Homo sapiens: one gene and its partner. Changing the gene in region 1 together with any one later gene gives a genetic interaction. Each region holds a gene or a part of one and is shown in the gene's direction. Other genes may lie near its edges. The genes, in order: ONECUT1 and KAT2B.

Evidence for each region.
Region 2: of ONECUT1 (region 1) and KAT2B, changing one enhances a phenotype caused by changing the other (phenotypic enhancement), as found in Homo sapiens cells (one study listed by BioGRID).

Annotation. Positions count from the first base shown.
Region 1 is NC_000015.10:52,783,642-52,787,455, reverse strand, and holds part of ONECUT1 (hepatocyte nuclear factor 6), read left to right. Parts: intron 1-3,814. UniProt on the Homo sapiens protein: Transcriptional activator. Binds the consensus sequence 5'-DHWATTGAYTWWD-3' on a variety of gene promoters such as those of HNF3B and TTR. Important for liver genes transcription.
Region 2 is NC_000003.12:20,102,944-20,106,757, forward strand, and holds part of KAT2B (histone acetyltransferase KAT2B), read left to right. Parts: intron 1-3,814. UniProt on the Homo sapiens protein: Functions as a histone acetyltransferase (HAT) to promote transcriptional activation. Has significant histone acetyltransferase activity with core histones (H3 and H4), and also with nucleosome core particles.

The DNA of each region.
Region 1 (3,814 bases):
AAATCAAAGCGTGAGGCCAAAGCCCCCTCCTCCAACTCGTGCCTGCCAATGAGAAGCTGGGGGTGGCAGGTGCCGACCAGCCTGCGATTCGTGCCCCGAAGCGACCCAAAGCGTTCTTTGGGTTTGGGCGCTGCAGGCCACCGGTCCCAAAGCACCGCGCTGGCTGAGACTCTGCCCTGCCAGGTTTTCCAGCCCAGCTCTGCCTTCGTTCGCCCCAGGCAAAGTCCTCATGCAGGTTCCTGCAGCCTGCGCCCGGGAACCAGTCAGGGGAGAAGAGGCTCGCTGGGCGCCCCAGCGAATCGCTGGCCCCCGGTTTTCCACTCTCTAGCTCTTGTGCTACCGGCACCATATCTCCACCCGTGGGCTGCCCGCGAGCAACTGAGGTTCCGGAGGGAGTGGGCGAAGGGGCTGCTCCTCGTCCTGACTGCTCCGTCTCTCCAGAGCCCAAGGTAGTGCCTTTTCACACACCCACACCACCCCAGAGCCAGGCTTCAGGGCCTCTTACCCAGGCAGTGCCCGCTGAAGCCAAAGAGTGGAGCGGGGGAATGTGGGAAGAAGATAGAAATGGAGAAGGCTACCCCTCCGGGAAAACTCGGTCCCCATCCCCCACCCCCGCCCCCTGGAGGCTCTTGCTCTGGACTTCAATATCCCTCCTCCCCCCACTGCCTGCTGTCGCCCCCTGGAAGGACAGACTGACACGTTCTGTTCAGAGACGACCTCTGAGCCATGGAAACCTGGCCGCAGGAGCGCCCTCTGACCTCCAAGCGTGGAGAGCTACATAGCCGAGCTCAGGGGACGGCACTGTGGAGGGGGAGGGAGCCTGAGTGCTGGGACCCGCACGCTGGAGGCGCAAACATGGTGCCTGGCAGGTGCTTGTGGCACCCAGGAGGCTATCGAAGGAGCGCCTGCCTGGGCACCCAGCAACCTGTAGAGGTCCATGCAGCCCTCGGCCCTAGGCCCATGGCCTTTTCCTCGAAAAAGTGAAACACTGGAGAGTCCAGCAGGGCAGGCATTTGGCACCAAACACCAAGCCGACTCTGTGTCCTGAGACCCTGAGGAAGCATGTCTATTACATTTTTGTTTCCTTAACTTAAAAGGGATGGTGGAAAGGGCTAGGACTGAGGATTCTGTGTTGGTCCAGGAGGGTCTCCTGCAAGGAACCAGGAACAGTCTCTTCACAACCTATTTTTAAGTTACTGAAGAAGGAGCCATCTCATTAACATTTTCATATTTTAAAAAGAGTGGGGTTATTTTCTGAACTTTCCAAATGATCTCTAACGGGCCAAGTGCATGAGCCTTAAAATGGATTGCAGAGCGCCTTGGCCGTTCCTACGGGACATTAGTGCCTGCCCCCCACTACCAGCTCCCATATGGGGAGGTGCCCCTGGCAGCTTTCCTTGCTGTTGCGCTCAGAGACCCTCCCCAGTCTCGTTCCAACCACCTTGCGAGGTCAGGGCTCACTGAGCTCGGTTCCTTCGCTCCGCAGCGGGAGAGTGGTGGCTTCTCCACGCCCCTCTGTCCTCCAGTTGCCGGCAGCCTGTTGCAGAGGGTCAAAACCCTCTTGCACGTGGCGCTGTGTTTGGGGAGGCGCCTTCCGGTCACGAAATAACAGCGGCTGGTGGAAGAAGGGCGACAGGAGGAAATTCCCACCAAATTAACTACCTTTTAAAAATCAATATATGTTCCCTCCATGTACTACTTGCTGCTGCCCCATTAAAGAGCAGAGCGACAGGGTTCTCGCCGCGTCTCCTCCGGGATGAGGCGGGGGGTGTGGGTGGGTGGCGCGCCTCTGACGTGGGCGTCTATCAAGACCAAGATTAGTTTCCAATTAAAGATTCCAGAGGGCTTCGGCCACACAGCAGGAGCTGCCGGCTCGGAAAGAGACAGCGACACACACCCAACAGCAAGCGCAGCACCGCGGACCCAGGGGAAGGCGGCGCGCAGGCCCGAGGTTCGGGCGGGGGTGGGTGTTGGGCACTCCGACCCTGCCCTGCGGGACTTGGAGGCGAGGAAACCTCCAAACCCCGCGGGGGAGTTGGCGGCGCCCCCTTCCCGTCCGGTGTTTGCCCCAGAACGACCTAAGAAGGACCTGAGCCAAGGGGGGAGGGGTTCGGTCGGGGGGCGGCCATGAGAAAGTCTCGCCCAGCCCAACCTGGGCTGTGTTTGCCCTGAGTGGCCTTGCGGCCTGGTTGATTGATAACTGGCCCCTGCACAAGTCCATTTGCTTTTTTGTTAATATTTATCCCGGGGTGACATTTCAAATGTCCCCCTGCTTTTCTGGGCCATGGGAGTCAGGCAGGAGTGCGGGGCCCTAGGCAGAGCCCTTCAATCCTTGAAGACTTCTGGGCCGGGAGAGAAGCCAGGACTGGGCGTGTGGGACGCAGGAGCTGGAAGCGTTCCTGGGTCCAAGAGTTGGGGGAGAAGGAGTCAAGCGCAGCGGTTTCCTCGCGCTTCGCGTCTTGGCGCTGTGGGTCTGGTGTCGCGCAGCTGCTCCCAGCCCGCTGCGGCGCGAACAAAGGGCCAGCAGGGCGCGACCGACCGTGTCCGCCTCTGAGCCCGGGGCGAGGGGCGCCGCCAGCTGGGAGCGCCTCCTCCGAAGGCCTAGGATGGCCTCCTACGGAGACCAAGGAGTCCCAGAGCCCGCCAGGCCGAAAAGTGGCAGTGCATCCCGGTAGTCAACTGGGGACCCTCACACACACACACCTAGCCGACTGCAAAACCAAAAAAGGTCTCGCTCCTGCGGACAGTCACCAGAAGGCTCTGCGTGGTGCCTGTCTCACGGCCGGTGTCTGTCCCCTCGAGGGTGTAGGACCATAGTTCCCCCTGTGTAGTTCTCTCTGTGTAACGGGCATAAACCCGGGTGAGGAGAGGGAGGTGCGCTTGGGGATAAGAAGTGGGCTCGTGGCGACGACTGGAACCGCTATGGCTGGGGCAGGGGAAACCTACTTCTGGGGCTTAAGGGGGGCTGATGGCTATTGTGTGGCGACCTTGGTGTCAGCGCAGCTAGGATGCCTGCCAGAGACGAACTCCACTACCTGTTCGGAGGTATGCGGCTATCCCGTCAATGGGTGCAGCACCTATCGCCCTGGAAGCATCCGGAGAGGGATCCCGGTAGCTGGGGCGACCAGCCTGACCCAGGGCACAGCGGTTGCTAGAGACCCAGCCCCGACATCGCCGCTTACCACCGACACTTGGGTCGGACAGTGCCAACAATAGCACGGTTGTGTTGTAGCAGCAGAGGACCCAAATCCCAGGATGCGCCTCTCCTTATCTGCAAGCCTCGAGCCCTCCGCGCTCCCTGCTTCCCTCCATTCGGCTCCCTTTCTGGGGGTAGCCGGGCTGTGCTGCGGCTGCGGCGCGCGCCCCCTGCGGGCCGTCGGGGCTGGGCGACCCGCGAGCGTCCGTGGTTCAGCCCGCGGCAGCGAAGAAAGGGATGCTTGCTGCGCCTTTGTTTTTAGAACGTCGTTGTTCTAGTGAATTTCAAAACAATAACTATTTTGATAGGAAGAAAGTGTGAAGGAGGAAGAGAAGGATATCTAGAGGGTCTGTCGGGGTACCTAACAATGCCTGGGTGTTACCCAATTCATGAAAACAAAATTCTCATCTTCCGAAGTACACCTCAGCTCTAACCTCCCCAAAAAAGATGCGTACTTGGATTTTGTATCCGAAGTATGCTTTTGTTGGCGTGTTTTCATTTAAGAAAAGCGGGGTCAGCGTAGAGAAGGTGACCCTGGCGGTCCGAAGTCGGAGGTTGGAGCTGAGGGATATAATACCCGGCGGATTGGCGGTTCCTTTGTTTTGTTGTTTCCTCTTC
Region 2 (3,814 bases), on another chromosome or scaffold:
AAAATAAGCTTTCCTCTCTGACATTGACCTAGTTTCATGTGTAACACACCCTTTTCCTCTCTTTCTCTTCACTTTTGCAAATATATGCAATTTCAGTTATAAAGTATTTTCTCCTTAATAATTGATATTTATAGGAATTGCAGATTTCTTCAAAATAAGTTTTTAAATTATATCTTCATTTCCGTATCTTTCATTTTAGGATTTTACATTAACAATAGTTCTGTATTATTGAAACTCTGCTATATTATTGAAACTCTTGTTTATAATAAGAGTTGAGACGATAAGTCTCTCAAAAATATGTATTTTTTAATCCCGTCTGTGAACAATTGACAAAGCTGAATATTTGTCAAAGCCAGGGCCCTGAATGCATTTGCGACTTTTAGCAGAGAAAATAATCGTTTCATCAAGAAAAAGGAGAATTAATTGTGAAGCAGCTTGGGAGACATTAGTATATTTTGTTTTATTTTTATTTTTATTTTTTTTAGAGATGGTGTCTTATTCTGTATCCTGGGCTGGAGCGCAGTGGCATGATCATAGCTCACTGTAGCCTCAACCTCCTAGACTCAAGCAATTCATCTATCTCAGCCTCCTTAGTAGCTGGGACTACAGGCACATGCCACCATGCCTGGCTATTTGTTTATTTTTTATAGAGATGGGGTCTCGCTGTGTTGCCCAGGCTGGTCTCAAACTCCTGACCTCAAGCAATCCTCCCACCTTGGCCTCCCAAAGTGCTGAGATTACATGTGTGAGTCACTGTGCCCAGCTATGATATTTTAGAAAACAGAAGAAAAATGCAAGGCAGCCTTTGAGAATTACTAAGAAATTGGTGGCACTTATGAATACTTAAGAAGTAGTAAAAATGGAAATTGGTTTGGATGAGTGCTGGGTTTGAATGGTGTGGGTCCATCTCTCCCTTTTTACATGAGCTTTAGACCAGTCTCTGGTCTAAAGAGACTTTTGGTTTCTTTCTCTGTCCAAGTGTCATGACTTTTGTGAGTATTCCATGGGTGGTTTGTATGTAGTTTCTGACACACAGAGCAGGTGCTGGGAAGATGCTCATCATCATTTTCCTCCCATGCACATTGTTCTCTAAAACTCAGTCACTGCCAATGTGGAGCTTATTAAGCTAAAGCCTTAAATGTATAATTGAGTGAGTGTGTAATTATTTGAATATCGCTTTAGAAATTAAGATAGCAGGGAATAGAAAAACAGCAAAAGAGTCCTTTATAGCCCAGCCTCCTGAGCCAACAGCTGAAGGCAAAAAGTGGAGTCAGACAATGGGAAAGAGAAACTTGCTGAGAGAAACAGAAATGAATATGCCCTAATGAGTTCTGAAACGTGCTGATTTCTAGGTGAAATGTAGACCAATAGCCCCTATTAATAATAAATAAGGAAATGAAGGTAGATGACACCAACCTCCCCCACGTCCCCACCATCACGTCATGTTGATGAGGAAAGGGAAGTAGAGAGGAACAACCTGTGAAAATTAGGAGAATCAATATTCGGAGTAAAACCTCACTGCCATGACCACATGGGGAATTAAAAAAACCACATACCACCACAGCATGATGTCTCACTGATACTGATCTTCTCAAAAATGGGTAATATTACTGGCTGCAGGCACCAGCAGGCTTTATCTTGATGTTGCTGTAAGAGAACCTCAGGACCTATAACGCTGGTTCAGCTTATAACTTACAGCAGTTACTGTAAATATTAGAACAAAGATGTGCCGAAAATGTTTGCAGTATATCAGTCTGAAAATGAAGTTAAACAGGATTCTTTGTGGAAAAGACTGGACTTAGAAAATGATTGTGTTCATTACAGAGCTAACTTGTAAATATTTATTCCATAAAAATTAAAAGCAGACTGAACAGTAGTACTGCTTAAATTACTTCTCTGTTCTGAAGAAAAGAAAAATATAAGTATTCTTTTTTTGTTGTTTTTTTGTTTTTTTTTTTTTTGAGATGGAGTCTCACTCTGTTGTCCAGGCTGGAGTGCAGTGGCGCGACTCAGCTCACTGCAACCTCCACCTCCTGAGTTCAGGCGATTTTCCTGCCTTAGCCTCCCAAGTAGCTAGGATTACAAGTGCGTGCCACCATGCCTGGCTAATTTTTGTATTTTTAGTAAAGATGGGGTTTCACCATGTTGGCCAGGCTAGTCTCGAACTCCTGACCTCAGGTGATCTGCCTACCTCGTCCTCCTAAAGTGCTGGGATTAAAGGCGTGAGCCACCTTGCTCAACCTAAATATTGTTACATAAGTGTATGTTAACTGTACCTTATATATACTCCCAGGAGCAATTGTGGTTATAGAAAAAAATGTGGGCAAATATTTTGAAGTTCCTGAATTTCATGATAGTACACTATTTAATTCCATGAAGAAATAACCTAAAAAGAAAGTGTCACAGGATTATGACTTCTTAAAATACAACTGTCCAACAGTCTGCTGAAGGAAAGTGCAAGTAATTAGTCTTAGATTTTGAATTGTGTAGAACTTTTGAAAGTTAAAGCTTACCCCCACACTGGGGAGATGTTTCATAAGAATACAGAGTGGCTGTGTGCAGTAGCTGATGCCTGTAATCCCAGCAACTTTGGGAGGCTGAGGCGAGAGGATCGCTTGAGCCCAGGAGTTTGAGCCCAGCCTGGGCAACAGAATGAGACTTCATCTCTACAAAAATAAAAATAAAAAACTAGCTGGGTGTGGTGGCATGTGTCTGTGGTGGCATGAGCCTGTGGTCCCAGCGACTCTGGAGGTTGAGGTGGGAGGATTGCTTGAGCCCGGGAGGTCAAGGCTGCTTGGAGCTGTCCATGATCCTACCACTGCACTCCGGCCTGGGTGACAGAGCACGACCCTGTCTGAAAAAAAAAAAAAAAAAAGAAGAAGAAGAAGAAAAAGAATACATAGCAAGTTAGCTAGAACTAACTTGTTTTTGGGAAACAGTTTTATTTAGCCATTCTTCTATGATGTACAGCCTATTGCCATGTATACTGAGCATTCATTATTAGACATGTAAGTCTAGAACAGATTTATCAGGAAGCATGGAAAGAACACTAGGAAACAGGAGATCTGACTTCTAGTCTGGACTTTAATTAAGTAACTGGGCCTCAGTCCCTGTGAACTAGGGCAGATCAGTTTATTCCTGAAAACCACAGGATTTTCAGTTCAGCAAGTCAGTAGAATGACATGGTCTTCTGTGTTCACATTTTTAATTTCTGTTCACAGAAGTTACAAATCATCATCATGATGTGAAAAATCTGGGAGTTATTTGAACAGTAAGAAAATAGCATGCAAATACCATCTTTATTAGACATACAAAAATGAACGAACTATCATTTTGCTTCTTTTTAGTAGACCCGAAATCAGTCATGTAGGTAAAATCTTTTCTACAGTTACTTCTTTGGAGGAATACATGTGCTCATGCACGTCCGTTTCCTTCTTTCTGTCTCACTGTGTGCAATAATAATATCAATCAATTTATTAAAACAACACCAGAAGTACACACACACACACACACACACACACATTCTGTCTCTCTCACACACACACACATTGACTCAGCCTCATTGTCTTAATCTACAGTGAATTTAACAGAGTACAAAATAAGATTAATCTTGGAAGTTAAGAAAAAGCTGAAAAGTATAAATTGAGGTCTATAAAATGACTTTGAGGAAATGAATGAAAGCCCATTATTTGAACATTTTTACTAGCTAATAACAATCTATGCTGTCTTCTACCCTGGGAAGATTGAATAACCTGTTAAAGCACTTTTGGATAACTTTTTAGGATTTTATGATAATATTTATAACCTATCATCT